2 separate regions of the Homo sapiens genome follow, and region 2 is linked to region 1. The links come from fine-mapping of genetic effects on gene expression. A gene starts in region 1. The other region holds a variant in brackets. All regions are shown on one strand. Distances are between the middles of the regions. Region 1 holds the start of LAMC1 (laminin subunit gamma 1). Region 2 overlaps LAMC1 (laminin subunit gamma 1).

Evidence for each region. PIP is the estimated chance that this variant, and not a neighbour inherited with it, causes the effect. A credible set is the group of variants that fine-mapping cannot tell apart.
Region 2: its variant is the best candidate, but not a certain one, in a credible set for the expression of LAMC1 in lung (TOPMed, PIP 0.81).

Annotation. Positions count from the first base shown.
Region 1 is chr1:183,020,883-183,025,334 of GRCh38, reverse strand. It overlaps LAMC1 (laminin subunit gamma 1), which reads right to left and starts at 1,915. Exons shown (of 28, transcript NM_002293.4): 1 at 1,201-1,915. The coding sequence starts at 1,618. RefSeq lists enhancers at 999-1,552, 2,108-2,662, 2,663-3,218, 3,956-4,452 and silencers at 1,507-1,646, 1,667-1,736, 1,787-2,176, 2,207-2,596.
Region 2 is chr1:183,129,033-183,133,032 of GRCh38, reverse strand. It overlaps LAMC1 (laminin subunit gamma 1), which reads right to left. Exons shown (of 28, transcript NM_002293.4): 19 at 2,484-2,689; 20 at 1,655-1,734; 21 at 496-633. Among named protein-coding and RNA genes, the nearest start is that of LAMC1-AS1, 10 kb to the left of the region's middle. The variant C/A (reference allele first, on the strand shown) is at 1,605.

The DNA.
Region 1 (4,452 bases):
TAAGTCCAATTCTTTCTCTGGAATCCTGATACTTACATAAAGTTTAGTGTACCGGAGAGCAGCAAAATCATGATCAAAAGAACCATTTGCCTACAACATGTTCCTTTCCAACACCCCTAAGTGATATTAGCCTTACAAAATTACCCTCCCTTGACAGAAGAATGGCTTGAGGCAGTCTGTTCTCTCTGGAAGTTCATTAGTACCAGCTACTGGTAATAATCAAGCCTTCCAAGGCAATGGGGAGTGAAGTGTTAAGTCAAACGTGTTTCTCACACATAGATTCCTCTGTTAAACACAATAATGAAACTTTCTGCCTATTTACGTATCTCAATGATGAAGAAAACCTTAGCTAGACCGAACATTATTTTTGGTGCTTCCAGATACATATGTCCATCCTCAATCCACTGCCCTGCCATGAAGTTTTCTACACATCCCTTTCCTGATTTCTGAAACATCACTTACACGTGTTTCTACAGTTGCTTTGAATGAAAGCAAAAGGGAAGACAGTAAAGGAGAGCCTTTTTACCCAGGGACAAGGCTATGCCCAGCAATTACAGTGAGTGCACTTCCTTTTGTTCATTCTGCACCAGGATTAGCAGTCAAATCGCTTTGTGGTTCTTAATTAAGGCTGAGCAGCTATAAAGAACAATAACTTCAAAAGTGAATTTATGTTTTAATTACACATAGGCAATATAGGCAGCGAAGGCATTTGCTCCCCTCAAATTCCCCCTTAACTCAACAGAGCAATCACCCTCAGCCCTGGAAGGACATCTAAACATTTTAAAGGCGAAAGTGTTTAAGGCGGACCTTCTTGTTTCCGATCCAAGAATGCGCTGTGATGACCTTGCTAGCAAAGAGAAAAGTGGGGATGGGAGTTTCTGATTAACGCTTCAGAAAAAAAAGGGGGAAATCACAATCCTAACAGCCGAAATGCAGAATAATCAGAGAGCCAGAATCCCGTTAAGTCAGAAAGAACAGGAAAGCAGAGAGACTCGTGCGGAACATCCTGGCCCTCACGGGATGTTAAAAGCAGTATCTATTTAAGAAGTTGGAGAAAGGAGTTTCTGTGTGGCCCATGCCGGGGAACAGAGAGCAAACACGCGGCCGTCTGCGCCCGTGAGGCCGGCCACTGGGACGGAGCCGGTCCGGGAGCTGGGCTGCTGGCGAGCAGTAGCAGGGGACGGGGCTGTCACCGCTTACCCAGGTGCAGCGTGAGGTTGATGGAGCTGGGGTACTGCACCCCGGCCAGCATGGTCTGGCTTTGCCACCAGGTGGTGTCGGCCTGGTTGTTGTAGTCGGTCAGGAAGGCTGCCCCGTGCTGCAGGTGGGGCTGCCCGGCGTCGCACAGGTGACAGGACTTGGTGACCCCGGTCACCCCGGTCTGCACACAGTATTCCTCGGGCGGAGTCCCACACGTGTTGGTGGCCACCACAGTCACGTTGAAGGCGGCGTTGACGAACTCGGGCATGCAGCGCTGCGGCCGCCCGCCCTCGTCCGTGCACTCGTCCATGGCTGCCTGGGCACAGCCCGCCGCGGCGGCCGCCGCCAGCACGGCCAGCACGGGCCAGAGCCGCCCCCGGGGCCGCAGGGCCGGCGCGGCCCGATGGCTCCCTCTCATCCCGCCGCCCGCACGCTGGGTCACGGCGAAGGCAAGGGCACCGGCGCGTTCCTCTCGCCTAGCGGCGTCCCCCGGAGGCCGCTTCGCTGCTTGAGCCTGGGGGCCCAGGGGCCTGACTCCGGCGCGGGCGGTGGCGGCGGCTCGCGCCGGAGAGACTGACGGGTGGGCGCCCCTAGCGAGGACCGCGCTGCTCGCCGACCACTGCCCCCGCGCGCCGCCTCCGCGCTTCCCTCACCTACCCCGGGAGCAGCCTGCACTCCGCGCCGACCCCCGACTTCCGAGCGCGTGCCCGAGTGCGCGCCCCCGGGGAGGAAGGAGCAGGGGGTGGGGTCGGCAGGGTGGGGTGGGGTCTGGGCGAGGAGAAAGCCCAACCCTGTCTCCTCTCAGCAACTCCCGCGGCCCCTGGGGCAACTCCCCGGCCCACCGCGCCCCATGGACTGCGCGTCCGCCCCGGCGACTCCAGGAGGCGGCGGGGGCGGGAGCAGCGGCGTCTCGCGCTCGGGCCCGCGGCGCGCGACCCGGGGGGAGGGGCGCGCGAGGTGGGCGGGGAGCCGGGGGAGGGGGTTGGGGGAGGGGAGGGGAGAGGAGGGGAGAGGAGGGGAGGGGAGAGGAGAGGAGGGGAGGGGAGGGCGGCTGGGTGGTGCATGCCGGGAGGGAAGGGCGGCCTCGCAGACCCGCTCCCCGCGCGGGAGTCGCTGGGGTCCTTGGGCTCCGCGGCCTGGGAGACTCCGGATTGCGGGAGGAGTCGGGGGAGGGCGCCTTAGAGGGGCGATGCCGGGTCAGGAGGTCGCTCGGGGTCGTCCCTGGGGCCTCGCGCCAATTTGGGCTGCGGCAAGAGGGTCCCCGCCCGGCCAGGTGTGGGTCCGAACCGGGAGCGCCCGCTGCTGCCCGGGGCCCCGCTCCAGCCCCTCCCGAACAGAGGTCCCGGGGCGTTCATGGGGCCGACACGGTCCCTGGAGAATCAGAAGGGCCTGGTCGCAGCAGCCAGATGAGTTTCGTGAAGCGATTTCCTGCCGCTGATTTAAAGTGTAACCAGTCGTTTTACCGGGGCAAGGAAGGAAGTGAAAAGGCTGGGAATGGAATGAATTTTTCCCTTGGGTACGCACGACCCACTGCGAAATTCTTCCACTGTGTTGTTTGTGTTCCTCGGCTTGCCTTTAAAAGACTCGAAATTATGTGGATTCTGACATCCTCCTTTTCGGGCCTGCTGAGTCACGGAATATTCTCAGTGCCAGAATGACTCAGTTCACAGAACCTGAGCCAGAAGATCATGAGTTTTAGTCCCGGAGCAGAACCTGGGCGCTTACCCAGTGCTGGATACGGCAAGCAGAGACCAGGGCAGGGAGGCAGCAGCTTGAAACCCTTGGCGTCCCCAAGCAGAGAGGATGCACATAGTGAATGACACGGATTTGTTTTGTTCTAGCTTTTCAGGAATTTAATGATAAAGTGCGGATAATAAGTACACCGCAAAAACAAAACAAAAAAACACATGCATAATTTCGGACCCAGTTGTCCCATTAAGATAGGCGTAATGGGAATCTGAAACAAGGAAATAAGTATATGTTAGGTGACTCTGGATAGTTAGGGTTAGTTAGACGCAGACTGCTGATTAGGAAAACCTTAAGGATAATGTTCTGGTAGGATGAAGAAGGGAGGGGAATCTAGGGTCTTGTTACACGGCTGAGCTTACTTAGCAAGTTATGTTCATCACTGTTCCGTTTATTTGATGAGATGGGTGGAGATTATGCATGGCTAAAGGTGCCTCATTCTTGGCACCTTCTCTTTGGGAGAATTAAGTTGTGGGGACTAATAATTTTTTAATCCTTTCATACATGAGTTGAAGCGAAATAAATACGTTCATTTACACCTAGAGGGGATTATATGCTCTCTCAGTCCTTCGTTGTACTTGAGGACAAACGTGGGCATATAGGACAAAAATAAGGATGTTAGTTGTGAATAAAGCTACAGATTTGTAATAAACTTGTTTATATTTTAATAAACATATTAGTGAATTTGCATTATTATACATTTTTAGTACTTTGTTATATAGTGGCCAAAGCGTGGGTCTCTATTTCCAACAATCAAAATAAAGACAAGGAGACCCCCAAAGGCTGTGAAATCAACATAAATGGGTTTGTCATTGCTGCCTTTTGAGTCCTAATGTCCAAGACTAACATCAAGATATTACTTATGCGAATTTTCCGTAACTTAATTACCAGAGCTTATCTGATATTTGTAAAGCACATAAAGAGACCTTGAATTAATCTCTCAATTCTCTTGCTTATGGAAATGTGTCACAGTGACAAACATCTATTTTGAAAAGAGGTAAAGTGTAACCAGCCAGTGGGCTTGATGATAAAAATTTTGCTCCGTTATTTGGATCTTGATTCAAACAAATCAACGGTTAAAACAAAATTTTTAAGACAATTTGAGAAATTTGAACACTAACCAGATGTTTGATGTTATCGACAAATTATTTTAGCCACCTAGAGATGCCACAGTCTACTAGACAGTATTTAAAGAAAAAAAGTGAAAGTGTGTAAGAATTTCTTTTACTGCAGGTTACCCTGTTTTTCAAAAAACTCCAGTCTTTTGAATGCACGTTCTTAAGTGCTTAGACATTTCATTATCAGCCGGGCGCGGTGGCTCACGCCTGTAATTCCAGCACTTTGGGAAGCCGAGGCAGGGGATTACTTGAGGCCAGGAGTTCGAGACCAGCCTAACCAATATGGTGAAACCCTGACACTACTAAAATTACAAAAATTAGCCGGGCCGGCTGGGGTCGTTGGCTCACGCCTGTAATCCCAGCACTTTGGAAGGCCGAGGCGGGTGGA
Region 2 (4,000 bases), 110 kb before region 1:
AGGCCGAGGCAGGAGAATCGCTTGAACCCGGGAGGCAGAGGATGCAGTGAGCCGAGATCGCGCCATTGCACTTTAGCCTGGGGGACAAGAGTGAGACTTCATCTCACAAAAACAACAAAAAAAAGAAAAAATTTTCTATAATGTATGGCTTACCATATACTTTCTTATTTCAGACACCCTTTAAAGATTTGTAGTTCAATTATGTTTCCTCTACTTACTCTATTATATTTTTTCTTCTTTATTTGTGCACAATTTTAAGTATCATGGCTCATCTTGTTACTATTCTCTGTAGTTACAGTAATTGAATCAAACCAAATCTCTGTGGCTTCACATGCCCTTCTCTACTTACTTTTCCATTTCAAAAGCATGATTAACAAAGGAAATCTTACTGCATGAATGTATGCCCTGAATGCACCAGCATTTAATTTTTCATTGAACTAGTGTTACTTACCAGAACACCTGAAGGGGTGTAAACCACTTTCAAATTATACTCACTTCCTATTAAGCTCTTCAATCTCAAATGCTGTTTGATTTTCTCCTGCCAGTGTCCTCAGAAGCAGGTTGTATGCCTCAGTTGACGTATCATTGGCTGTCTTTGCCACTCGAACAATGTCATCAGCTTCCTGTTTATGACTATACAGATAAAACAAAAAATAAGCCATGAAACAACCATCTGATAGGGACATAAGTAAAATTCAGGTAATGCTTACTTTATTATTATTATTATTATTATTATTATTTGAAATGGAGTCTCGCTCTGTCACCCAGGCTGGTGTGCAGTGGCGTGATCTTGGCTTATTGCAACCTCCGCCTCCCGGTTCAAGCAATTCTCCTACCTCAGTCTCCTGAGTAGCTGGTATTACACGCATACACACCATGCCCAGCTAATGCATCTTTAGTAGAGATGGGTTTCGCCATGTTGGCCAGGCTGGTCTCAAACTCCTGACCTTAGGTGATCCACCCGCCTTGGCCTCCCAAAGTGCTGGGATTACAGGCATGAGCCACTGCTCCCGGCCTACTTTATTATATGTACATATACTAACATGGGCAACAATTCTACAAATATTAGAAAACGTCATTCATTTGGAATTTTGTGATCATTTCAGTGGGGCTGAATTTATGAATAGCATTCTAAAACTGAGATGAGAATATTTTCCAAAAAAATTATTGGTATACATTTATAAGAGAAAATGTTTATAATTCTTCAGAAAAACTACTTTTAAATTTAATTATTTGAGAGTAATGTACATATAAAATTGTGTATGCCAGCAAGAAATCATTTACCTAGTTAAAAACAAATCCCATGCCTAATCTTTATTAACAACAATCTGCTAGTTTCATTCAGTTACTACAGTCTTAAATAAGTTAAAAATCTAAAAATATTATGGTTTTGAGAAATATAAATATGATTTGTCTTCAAACCATTGTATTCTAATATTCAAAGTGAATATTCTAATGTCAAAGTAAAAGGAAGAAAAGAGTATACACAGCTGATAATATCTTAGAAAAGAGAGCAAAGTGTGCAAAAGTGGGTTATGTAGAAAGTGTTTATGGGTTATGGGATAAGACAATACACACACACACACACACACACACACACACAC[C/A]CCATAACAGAAGCCACAACTTAACCATTAAACAGGGATCTAGAAGTTACCGTTCAGCAAGCTTTCGAGCCTCTTCTGCCAAAAGAGTCATGTTGTTTGGGTCCCCTGTAGATTCTGGCTGAGTGACTGACTGCACAGGAAATAAAGCACTTATTCTCAAAGGACTGAATTATTTACATTTAATAAAGCAAGAGTCAAAACTAAATTTTTGTTAGAGGGCAAAAAGAATGCCTCTACCTTTTTTTTTTTTTTTTTTGAGATAGTTTCACTCTTGTTGCCCAGGCAGAAGGGCAATGGCACAATTTCAGTTCACCGCAACCTCTGCTTCCTGGGTTCAAGTGGTTCTCCTGCCTTAGCCTCCCAAGTAGCCGGGATTACAGGCATGCACCACCATACCCGGCTAATTTTGTATTTTTAGTAGAGACGGGGTTTCTCCATGTTGGTCAAGCTGGTCTCGAACTCTCGACCTCAGGTGATCCACCCGCCTCGGCCTCCCAAAGTGCTGGGATTACAGGCGTGAGCCACCGCGCCTGGCCCCAAGAATACCTCTTCTTATTTTCAGAGATCTTTATTTAATATCAGCACCCTTGATTGCAGATTCTATTTTCAGTAAAGGATAAAGGAAGATTAAACTGCCTAGTTCCATAGAAGGAACAAAGCTAGAGAAATAACCCAGATGTCCCTTGGTTTTTATCCAGTTTTTAATAACTGTTTCATGCCAACTATGAGCAATGTGGCTTTTCTGCCCCATATTTAGGGACAAATAAAAAGATGCATGGAGTCAATTTAGTTGAAGAAGCACTCCACTGCCAGTAACAGACTTGCTACAAACCCCAGGGGCCTCCCCCATCCCCACCTCAGACGTTTGCAATCACTTACCACATTGGCAGCAGCGACTTTTGCTTTCTCAAGTTCTCTGGATGCGATTTCAATCAACCGCTCTGTGTTCTCTACATGGGCACGCGCTTGTTCAGCCAAGTTTCCAGTCTCTTCAATGGTATTCCGGATATTCTGTAAACGGCTAATTTGGCTGGACAGAGTGTTATTCACTCTCTGTAGGCGATCCATCAAATTCTGGTCAACATCTAAAATGGTTTGCAGAAGAAAGTCTGTAAATTATCTGAAGAGGATCATATCATCTCACATGAAATCTGAGGCCCTATGTATCTCTACTCTTCTAAACATCGCAACTTTCTGCCAGGTTTCCACAAAGCCCCTGCCATAGCTGGACAGCCTTTACCACACCCAGTAGGTCCTTCACTGTGCACTCATCACACCTCCAACCGTGCGTCCATCTGTCCACTTGACTACGAACTCTTTCTTACTCACCACTATATCGCTGGTCTTATGCAGTGGTTGGCAAAGAGAAGACACCCAAGGAATGTTTAATGAAGGTGAGAATGACTGACTTTAATACCAGCACATGCAATTTAGTCATAAATCTACAATGTTGTTAAAAATGCTGCCAGCCCTAAAAGCCGAACATTTTTCAAAACCCAGAAAAAACTAGGTTTAAAACATAAGTTGAAGTATGACAAATTAAACTCATTTTGTATTTTAAACTAAATAGACTCTTTTGCCACCCCCATGTGCCAGCATATCAGTGTAATTTCTTTCAAACTGATCTCTGTTTTTGAATAGTTCTTCAAATTATTCTTTATTAATATGCTCATTCAACTTAAATCTCATACTCAGGTCCTAACAAATCAAAAGATAAATATAAGTCTGTTATTATTAAAACTCTCATGTATCATGAGGTTTTATTAATATATAAAAACCATTAAGTAAATTGACCAATTCATATTTCAGCATCATGCTCGGTGTTGGGGTCTAAATTTTCTAAGGAATGTGGGAAAAAAAAAAAAAGATGAGAAGTCAAAGGTAAGACCAATGAAGATGAATACAGGTTTGGAAAAAACCAACTTGGAACTTGGCTACCAAATGTATGTGCAGAGGTGACATTCTACAAACTCTTGCCTAACTATATATGGTGGTCCTGCTTGGAAGGTTACTCAATTATTTGATAATGTAAAAATTTTTTGGCTGGGCGCAGTGGCTCAAGCCTGTAATCCCAGCACTTTGGGAGGCTGAGGTGGGCAAATCACGAGGTCAGGAGATCGAGACCATCCTGGCTAACACGGTGAACCGCCATCTCTACTCAAAATACAAAAAAATTACCCCGGGCATGGTGGGCATGTGCCTGTAGTCCCAGGTACTTGGGAGGCTGAGGCAGGAGAATCACTTGAACCCAGGAGGTGGAGGTTGCAGTGAGCCAAGATCGCGCCACTGCACTCCAGCCTGGGCAACAGAGTGATTGTGGCTCAAAAAAAAAAAAAAAAAAAAAAAGCTTATGAAGACGCATGCCTTTAATGATTTTTAAAACTATTTTAATATTT